2 linked regions of the Homo sapiens genome follow. The protein of the gene in region 1 purifies or fractionates together with the protein of each later gene. This does not show direct contact. Each region holds a gene or a part of one and is shown on either strand. Other genes may lie near its edges.

The links.
Region 2: the proteins of SGPP2 (region 1) and RNF185 purify together in Homo sapiens (affinity purification with mass spectrometry; one large-scale study listed by BioGRID and IntAct). This does not show direct contact.

What each region holds. Positions count from the first base shown.
Region 1 is NC_000002.12:222,430,091-222,435,754, forward strand, and holds part of SGPP2 (sphingosine-1-phosphate phosphatase 2), read left to right. Parts: intron 1-5,664. UniProt on the Homo sapiens protein: Has specific phosphohydrolase activity towards sphingoid base 1-phosphates. Has high phosphohydrolase activity against dihydrosphingosine-1-phosphate and sphingosine-1-phosphate (S1P) in vitro.
Region 2 is NC_000022.11:31,191,034-31,195,886, reverse strand, and holds part of RNF185 (E3 ubiquitin-protein ligase RNF185), read right to left. Parts: intron 3,204-4,853; coding exon 3,185-3,203; intron 419-3,184; coding exon 306-418; intron 1-305. UniProt on the Homo sapiens protein: E3 ubiquitin-protein ligase that regulates selective mitochondrial autophagy by mediating 'Lys-63'-linked polyubiquitination of BNIP1.

The DNA.
Region 1 (5,664 bases):
AAAAAAAATACTAGAATAGAACGATGAATACAAGGACAGGAAGACAATAGCAGGAGTAACTCACCTTCCCAGGGGAGCCCATGAAGTCTTGAGTTGGGGCTTAAAGAGTGGGTAGGAATCAAACAGGCAAAAATGGGAGAAGCTCTTTCTTTACCTGGATTCTCATGTGCTAGAACATAAAGACACGTGTCATTTTTGGTGAATGATGACAAGTTCAGCTTGGATATCATCAGAGTGTCAGCAGGAAATAGTTGGTCTACTTAAAAAGGGTGATCGAAACCTTAAAAATAGTTAAAATGGTACATGTTATGTATATTTTACCTTAATTTTCTTAAAGAACATAGGCTCTATTCCACCTTTTAGGGAAGGAAGCATAGCTCTCTATTTCTTTTCTTCTTTTTTGAAAAAAATAGAGACAGGGTCTCACTATGTTGTCCAGGCTAGTCTCGAACTCCTGGGCTCAAGCGATCCTCCTGCCTTGGCCTCCCAAAGTGCTGGGATTGCAGGCATCAGCCACCACAGCCAGCCTCCCTATTTCTTAAACATGGGCTGCACATAGTGACTTCCTTCCAAAAAGTGCGATATAGAAAGAGAAGGGGGAAAAAAGTAATTTTACAGTGTAGAAACTTGACAGACACTCCCTTGGCCAGATGATCAAGGTCAACATCACCAGTGGTAAGTCATGTTGACATCATGTTCTCTTGATGCATATTAAAATTATGTATTCTTGTTACATGTTGAGGGTCATTCTGCAAAATATCTGACCAGTACTCTTCAAAACTGTCAAGGTCATCAGAAACAAGGAAATTCTGAGAAGCTGTCACAACTCAAGAGGAGTCTAAGGAGGCATGACTAAATGTTATGTAGTATCCTGGATGAGGTCATGGAACAGAAAAAAAAAATTAGGTAAAAAATAAGGAAGCCTGTGTAAAGTATGGACTTCAGTTAATAATAATGTATCAATATTGTAACAAATGTATCATACCAACATAAGATGTTAATCATAGGGGTACCTGCCTACAGAGTATAAGGAAGGCTGGGAGTATATGGGAATTGTGTATTATCTTTTCAATCTTTTTATAAATTTCAAACTTTTCTTAAAAAAAAAAAAAGTCTATTTAGGCCAGGCATGGTGGCTCTCTTGAGGTCAGGAGTTGTAATCGCAGCATTTCGGGAGGCCAAGGAAGTCGGATCACTTGAAGTCAGGCATTCAAGACCAGCCTAGCCAACATGGTGAAACCCTGTCTCTACCAAAAAATATGAAAATTAGCCAGGTGTGGTGGCACACGTCTGATGTACCAGCTACTTGGGAAGCTGAGGCATGAGAATTGCTTGAACCCGGGAGTTAGAGGTTGCAGTGAGCCAAGATCATGCCACTGCACTCCATTCTAGGTGACAGAGGAGACCTTGCCCCCCGCCCCCCGCTCGAAGTCTAAAAATTTTACAAGGTGGGGGTAATTGAAGGACTATTTACAAAGACGTGGGCAGGGTTGGAAGAAAACCAACATGGGAGGATGAAGCATCTTGGAGCAAGCAACTTCAGCCTAAAAAAGCAAGAACAGGGAATAGGGTTCGGGTAACCCCAGACCCACTGAGAGCTTAGATGGCAGAGGGAATCCCCTGACCAGAGCTGAGGCCCTTAGCAAAGAAAGGCAGCCACAGCCAGGCAGGAAGAGGTTGAGGGGTGGGGATCAGATCTCAAGCTCATTCTCCATATGCCTTCTTTCTCATATCCTACCAGTGCCCCCACTTTAACCAAATTTAGCCCATAGTCAGGGAGCTTGGGAGCTGGCTGAAGCAGTCCATCAAGGTCAGCCTCCCTGGAGAAAGGCAGAGAGTGGACTGGAGAGGAGAAATGGAACCCACCCAGCGCAGGTTGCATGAAGAAATTGGTGTGATAATACAGCTGCAGTTTTGGGCTGCAGCCAGAGTTTTAGGCTGAAGCCTTAATGTGGCTTACTGCAGAATTTGGACTTTATCCTATAGACAAGAAGATAGCAGTCAATTTCATCCCGTGTGCCAAATCGGAATTGGCAACTGAGAGCACTGTGTTAAGAAGGGATCTCAGGCTGTCTCTGTGCAGGATTGATGGAGGTGCTTGTGTGAGTATGGAGGGAGCCCAGTGGTGAAGCCTTTTAAGAAATAGTGATGTTAGATTCAAGCAGCAACAAATGTAGGACTCACATGAAATCAAACCTTAATGTCTGTTTTGGGTCCTTTGTGATACTTCTATTGTCACTCTCACCCACAGATGATTTACGAGGAAAAAGCACAAATGGTTTCTTAAGACAGAGGTTGCCATGTTTTGAATCATAGGATCCCATCATTATGACTACAAGCTGATTGAGCCAGGGCTCAGCCCTGGAGTGAAAGGCAGCCTTCTATAGGCTGGTCAGCATTTTATGACATGGCTTGGCATGGGGACGTCATCCAATTAAGATCATGCATATTGTGTAGTGACTAACAGACTCAATCGAATTGCTCCCTCAGCAAGTCTGAATGCAAGACCCAGACATAAATGTTAGAGTTCTGACAAACCTCAGAGAAAAGAGGGAGGTTGTAAAGAAACAGAAGCCTCAAGACACAGGAAACAATAGGAACTCAGAAGCCAGAGGTGGAGGGGGGAATGAAAAGTCTGTAGAAAAGATAGGCCAGATACGGTGGCTCACGCCTGTAATCCCAGCACTTTAGGAGGCAAAGGCGGGTGGATCACCTGAGGTCAGGAGTTCGAGGCCAGACTGACCAACATGGAGAAACCCTGTCTCTACTAAAAATACAAAATTAGCGGGGCATGGTGGCACATACCTGTAATCCCAGCTACTCGGGAGGCTGAGGCAGGAGAATCGCTTGAACCCAGGAAGCAGAGGTTGCGGTAAGCCAAAATCATGCCTTTGCACTCCAGCCTGGGCAATAAGAGCGAAACTCTGAAAAAGAAAGAAAGAGAGAAAGAAAGAAAGAAAGAGAGAGAAAGAGAGGAGAGAAGGAGGGGAGACGAGAGGAGGGAAGGGGAGGGGAGGGGAGGGGACAGGCAAAGCCAAACAAAGCAGAAAAAAAATTTCTGAATGGAAAAAGAAGCTAAGACTTGAGTATGGCAGATTCCACTGAGCATGAGAAGCTAGAGGAACTGTTATGTTTCAGGATAGAATGGCTCAGAGAGGACCTTAGGAAAGAAGCTGGCTGTGTGGCTGCTGCAGTTTTCTTAGTTCTTGAGGAATTATATTATAAACCCCTCTCAGTGGAGGGAGCCTGTGGGGATCTCGCAGTGCAACCAGAATGTGCTGATCCCTACTACTTTGAAGGATTTACACTTAATTGCAAGTAGGTCGTTATTTCTCTCACTGTAGTTGCGAATGGTGGCTGGTGAGGAAGAACAATGGGGAGAGGAAGTTAGATCCCTCTGCTCACCTGTGTACCCTCAGGGCCTGACATGCCTGGAGCAACCAGGTACTTAATCCTACCTGGTGAATGGAAGCTTGAAAGGTGCGCTAAACTCGCCTTTGTCTGACTTGGCAGAAATTTGATCACCTGCCCTTTCCTGTCACAACAGAGGTAACTTATCCCTGGACACTTGGCCTGGCTGTGTCTTCTTGTAGCTTGATGATTTTTTTCCCCCCATGTTGGCTCCTTCCTTTTTATCCAGGAAACTGATAGAGGGTTTTGATTAATGAATAACTTTTTAATTGCTTTGCTTTCTTCTGATGGATGCCATGAAGGGAGGTATTGCTAAAAAGTTAGTTGATGGTGAAACATCTGACAAGTTTAAAAATGTATTTCAATTACTATGTTTTAGGAAGGCTGTGGACAGCCGGCCTGGTGTGATTTTAACTTTTTTGACTTCTAATTAAGATGTCAAGACATTTGCATTTTTCAAAAAGCACTTTCACTTCCTCTTGTTACAGTTTTCGTTAATGATTAAGTCCTCTGTGGTCCCGATTAGAATTATATCCTGAACTAAGGCATTCTTGCATTTTATCCAGCAGGAGATTTTCTTGTGAGAAAACACTGTCACAGTTTCCAGGCAACGCATCAAGAGTGTTCCTGTCTATATTAGGAATCTATGAAAATACCAAAATTTGGGGCATCTGCAGGTCTTTATTATTCTTCTTGCCTGGTGAGATACATTCCATATACTGAGAAAGTGAAACATTGAAAAATCAAGGCGAGACTGTGACTTGTATTTTTTGATTAATTAATTTTTAATTTTATAATTGACACATAATAATTGTATATGTTTATGGGGCACAGCGCAATATCTCAGCACGTAGGTGTGTGACTCATGTTTTTTGTCCCCTCAATCTTGCTTCAAGCACAACAAAAAGTCCCTGAGGCTTGGGCCAGAGCGGATGAAAAGGGAAGGCACCAACTACCTAAGATCTTGAAGGCAAGGCTTGGGAGTCTTGGGAAAGGGGGCAGTGGTTTCCCTCAACCATTTTAAATACTATTCTCTCCTCCCCCAAATGCTCATTGGCAGTGCTATACCTCTATTGTTTAATGAGAAAACACCTGGTTCATTGTTACTTTGTTTATTTGGTAAATGCCTTCATAAGAAATGCCCTTTCTGTCATCTCAGGGTATGTTTTGATTTGTCCAAATGGCAAAAATTTTGTTTCCATAAAATTTTATGAAAAACTGCCCATCAAAGCAAAGATTCCTGTGGGTGTGGTGGTGAATGCACAGGCTGCTGGGGTAATGTGTCGGCAGCTAAAAAAGACCAGGCCTTAATTGGTAGAGAAAGGGCTTAGGTGAAAGATAATTAAAGGGTGGCTGTGAAATAGAACATCAAGTATTTTGTTTAAAGCTTGACAAATGGAAGGAGCCTCTGTTAGAAGTTGGTTTGTATATTAGGGTTCTCTAGAGGGACAGACCTAACAGAATGGAGATATATACACACACACACACACACACACACACACACACACACATATGTGTATATGTGTGTATATATATGTGTATATATATACACACATATACACATATACATATATATATACACATATATATATATGGAGTTTATTTAGTATTAACTCACACAATCACGAGGTCCCACAATAGGCCTTCTGCAGGCTGAGGAACAAGGAGAGCCAGTCTGAGTTCCAAAACTGAAGAACTTGGAGTCTAATGTTTGAGAGCAAGAAGCATCTGGCATGGGAGAAGATGTAGGCTGGGAAGTTAGGCCAGTCTCTCTTTTTACATTTTTCTGCCTGCTTATATTCTAGCTGAGGTGGCAGCTGATTAGATTGTGCCCACTCAGATTAAGAGTGAGTCTGCCTTTCCCAGCCCACTGACTCAAATGTTAATCTCCTTTGGCAACACCCTCACAGACACACCCAGGATCAATACTTTGTATCCTTCAATCCAATCAAGTTGACACTCAGTATTAACCATCACAAGTCCACCTTTTGTCAACTTGAACCCATGTACATCTCCTGAGATCATATGTAATCTTCATATACAGATAACAATAAGGTTATAATTATGTCTAACATAATACAACTATCCTTCATACAACAGGAAATTCACCACGCCCCAACGCAAGTACTATTACATAAAGTTAACAATACTTAAATGCTGATATGAAGTCAATAAATCTTATGTCACATGATAAAGGAGAAAGGAAATAAAATGAAGGTATTTTCTTAGTACAAGTGTATACGTGCACAAACA
Region 2 (4,853 bases), on another chromosome or scaffold:
TGCAGCAACCCTGCTCCCTGGAGCCTCTCCTGCTACATATCCTGCTTCCCAGGTTGCAGAAATGCTCTTTCACAGGGCTCTGCACACTTGTGATTGTGATGTCTGTTCACTGCTGGGTCCTAGCAAGTGGCAACTTGGATCCCCTCTCTTCCCTCCCCTCCTAGCTGACTCTCATCTGGATGAGACTGCTTCGAAACCAAGAGATCATCTAGTACTAAGTAAAGGGTGGGGTTAGGGGATGCTGAATGGGAGTGAATTCACATCCAAGGGGAGAAGTGGTTGGGAGAGGCATCCTGAGTCCTCACCTGGGGTCCTGTTGCCCAGTGCTGCCCCTTCCATAGAGGGGGATGACCTTGTCTCGGCTGATGCCAGCTTTGCAAACAGGACACACCTGTCTGTTAGGTCTGGTCTCCAACCACTGCAAACAGGAGAGAAAAATGCATGTGGATGGCCCAAGACCCACCAGAGTGATCAGCCAGAGCCACCAGAACAACACAGGCCAGAGGCCTCAAACTGGGAAACACCAGCATGAGCAGGGAACATCTCAAGGAACCTGACTCCCATTCCTTCTCCTACCATTCAGCAAATACCTACCAGTGGTAAAATCAAAATTGCCTTTAAATATCATCATAATTGGCCGGGTGCGGTGCTCATGCCTGTAATCCCAGCGCTTTGGGAGGCGGAGGTGGGTGGATCACCTGAGGTCAGGAGTTCAAGAGAAGCCTGGCCAACAAGGTGAAACCCCGTCTCTACTAAAAATACAAAAATTAGCCAGACATGGTGGCGCATGCCTGTAGTTCCAGCTACTCGGGAGGCTGAGGGAGGAGAATCGCTTGAACCCGGGAGGCGGAGGTTGCAGTGAGCCGAGATTGCACCACTGCATTCCAGCCTGGGCAACAGAGCAAGACTCTGTCTCAAAAAAAAGAAAAAAAATCATCACAATTAGGCTTCTTCATGCTTTGTTTCTCTCTAGGGCCTCCTAGCAACACAGGGGGAGGGAAACTGCAAGTCTGGGGCTGTCAAGTCTGACATGCCCAGCCTCAATTTAGGCTGCTGGTGTAAGTACAGCAAACTTTAAATCCCCACCTTCCCAGTAGGAGCAACTGTATTTTCCTGTCAGTCATATTCTTCTTTCTGTGATTTCTCATTTTTTTTTCCCCAGACAGAGTCTTGCTCTGTCACCCAGGCTGGAGTGTAGTGGCATGATCTCAGGTCACTGCAACCCCTGCCTCCTGGGTTCAAGCAATTCTCCTGTCTCAGCCTTCCAAGTAGCTGGGATTACAGGCGCCCACCACTGCGCCCAGCTAATTTTTGTATTTTTAGTAGAGACAGGGTTTCACCATGTTGGCCAGGCTGGTCTCAAACTCCTGACCTCGTGATCTTCCTCCCTTGGTCTGCCAAAGTGCTGGGATCACAGGCATGAGCCACCGCGCCCGGCCAATTTCTCATTTTTATAGCATTTTCCCAACAACTGTGTATCCCAGGCATCAGAATCAGGAGATAAGCTGATCATTTTCTGGTGACTTACCACATGCTAAAGGATAGGTTTTGCTCATTATCTAAATTTGCTTAATGCTTTTTGTGTACTTTCATTGATTTTTTGCATTCACCTATTTCTTTCAATATAAAAAAAATCCCGTTTTGGGTTTCTCAGGCCCTTTCACTGGTTACATTAAAATTTTTTGTTTAGGCCAGGCGCGGTGGCTCACGCTTGTAATCCCAGCACTTTGGGAAGCTGAGGCGGGTGGATCACCTGAGGTCAGCAGTTCAAGACCAGCGTGGGGAACATGGTGAAACTCCGTTGTCTCTACTAAAAAGACAAAAAAACTAGCCGGGTGTGGTGGTGTGCACCTGTAATCCCAGCTACCCAGGAGGCTGAGGCACAAGAATCGCTTGAACCCGGGAGGCGGAGGTTCCAGTGAGCCGAGATCTCACCATTGCACTCTAGCCTGGGCGACAGAATGAGACTGTCTCAAAAAAAAAAAAAAATTAATTTTCTTAAAAAAACAAGTGATAAAAAATGTTTTTGGTTTGTTTTTGTTTGTTTTTTGCTTGTTTTTGATTTTTTTTTCGGTTTTTTGGTTTTTTTTCTCGAAACAGAGTCTCACTATGTCACCCAGGCTGGAGTGCAGTGGTGCAATCTCAGCTCACTGCAACCTCTGCCTCCCAGATTCAAGCGATTCTCGTGCCTCAGCCTCCCTAGTAGCTCGGACTATAGGCGTGCACCACCACGCCCAGCTAATTTTTATATTTTTTGTAGAGACGGGGTTTTGCCATATTGGCCAGGCTGTTCTCAAACTCCTTGCCTCAAGTGATCCACCTGCCTTGGCCTCCCTACGTGCTGGAATTATAGGTGTGAGCCACCACACCCGGCCAAAATGTGTTTTTATAGACATTCTATAAACATGAATCTAGGACTTCAGGGCTGAGGAGATGGCAGCACTGAATGATTTTATTTACTACTCTTACTGTTCATAGCTCCAAAACTTAATGTGTTATGTGTTCTTCATAAACTCATAGTCAATATGTACTACCAGGTCCCGCTGGGGACAGAATGTGCAGCCCTGTTCCCACCTTCTTTCTCCCATCCAGATTCTGAAGCTTTAGCAGTCTGGAACTTCTGTCCTCCCCCACATTCCCAGGCCACCTACGAGTGTGGTACTCTACTGCTGACGACCAGGGAGACTTTCAGCAGGCTGTGATTATTCACAGCCACTTGTGAATGCCAGGCCCAGCTCTGTCTCACCAAGTAGGTGCTAAAGCTAGGAAAATAGACTTTTCTCTCCTCACAAAAGCTCTTTGTTGACACCAAAAAAATTTTCCCCTTCCTAATATTTTCATAACCTTTAAGGGCTGGGGGACTGTTGATATGATAGGAGGCACTGTTTTAATAGAAGCAGAATCTCAAAAATAAAAAGGACCTAACTAACATACTATCAATCCAATCCAATTTATAAATGAGTAACTGAGATCCAAAAAGGCCCTCTGTGGCAGAATTAGGACCATCCCGATTTCATCAAGTGTCTGTCAGTGGACAGGTATGTAAAGAAGGCTGTGGGGGTAAGTAAGCAAATGAGCCCACAAGCAGGGCAGATTGCAGCTTCTGAAAGCAGTCTCCTGAGACTAGGGCTCTCTTGTGCAACCAGAGCTGATGAAAGACAAAGTAAAATGAAATGCATCTTACCTGATGTAAACACGGCCAACTGCCAGAGTCCCCAGGGCAACCAGTCATCAAGGAGAAGGAGAAAAGGGGAAAGGAAGAAAAATGTTTTCATTAGCAGAAACACTTGATGGGTGGAGTGGTAGTAGCAGAATGAGAAAACAGGAGTAAACTATGGAGCACTGCATGCCCATTGAGGTTCTGTAGGGATTACTGGTATCGGAAATTAAAAAAAAACTGGGGTAAAAATCACAGAAAATAAATAACGCAATGGAGATAAGACCCCAGCCTCTGCCCCTGAGATCTCAGTATATGTGAAATCCCCAGGGCTCAGACCACACAGACCCAGCTTCTCTACAAATCACCCTGTGAGAGGTTACAACATCTGAAGGAATCCAATAAAAGCTAAGGACACCCTGTGCAAAAAATTGATGGGGGCATTCACATACACATGTACTACACACTATTTTACACTCAATTTCAGTGGGTTCATAGTCTCCTCGGGCTCACAAGGGATGTGTGGACTCTCAGGTAGTCCAGATCCAGTTTAACAAAATCTTCAGGCTGTCCTCATCCTTGAGAACTCTCCTAGCAGGAAGCAGCTTAAAAGTTCAGGTCTACTCTAAAAGCATCTTTAAGTAATAGAAAGGATGGGGATGCTACTTGACAGAAAGGGTTACCTTCAGCTTAGAGAGCTGCTGTCCAATCTCTCTCCATTTTCAAATGAGGAAACCAAAGCTCAGAAACATAAAATGAACTGCATCAGGATTAAAAAAAAAAGTCTCCTGACTTCTAGTTCATTGCCCTTTCTATAATCTAACACCACATACAAAAAAAAAATGATATCTACAGAATTGAAAGAAAAGTATTCAACTCCACTTTTTTTTTTTTTTTTTTTTGAGACGAAGTTTTGTTCTTGTTGCCCAAGCTGGAGTGCAGCTCACTCAGCTCACTGCAACCTCCACCTCCCAGGTTCAAGCGATTCTCCTGTCTCAGCCTCCTGAGTAGCTGGGATTATAGGTGTGTGCCACCACGCCCAGCTAATTTTTTGTATTTTTAGCAGAAACGGGGTTTCACCGTGTTAGTCAGGCTGGTCTCAAACTCCTGACCTCAGGTGATCCGCCCACCTTGGCCTCCCAAAGTGCTGGGATTAAAGGTGTGAGCCACCGTGTCTGGCCCACATTTTTAATTTCTTTCTCTCGTTTATTTAGTTAACACATATCTACTGTGTACCTACTATGTAGGCCAGGACAGTGGAAAATGCAGGCATGGCTTCTGTACCTCACATACCAAGTATCTTTAGCTGAGTACACTTTGAACTCAAAGGATAGTTCCTTTTCCAATTCCTGAACCACAGTTTAGCTTCACAAACCAAATACACAATCTTCCTGGCCATAACATCTGACTCCAACATTAATCTTGCAATGTCATTCTAAACTGAGTGGAGAATAACCCCAAATCATGGCAGATCTCCACTGGCAAGTTCCCTTAAAGACTCTAGGGGAGAAGTGGAGGTGAATGAATGACCCTCAGGGGAAAGTCAGGCTTTATAACAACGACCATTCCTCCCATTTATTAAGCAACGATAGTCATGTATCACTGAACGACAGGGATAATTCTGAGAAATGTGTCATTAGGCAATTTCATCATTGTGAGCATCACAGAGTGTACTTACACAAACCTAGCTGAAATA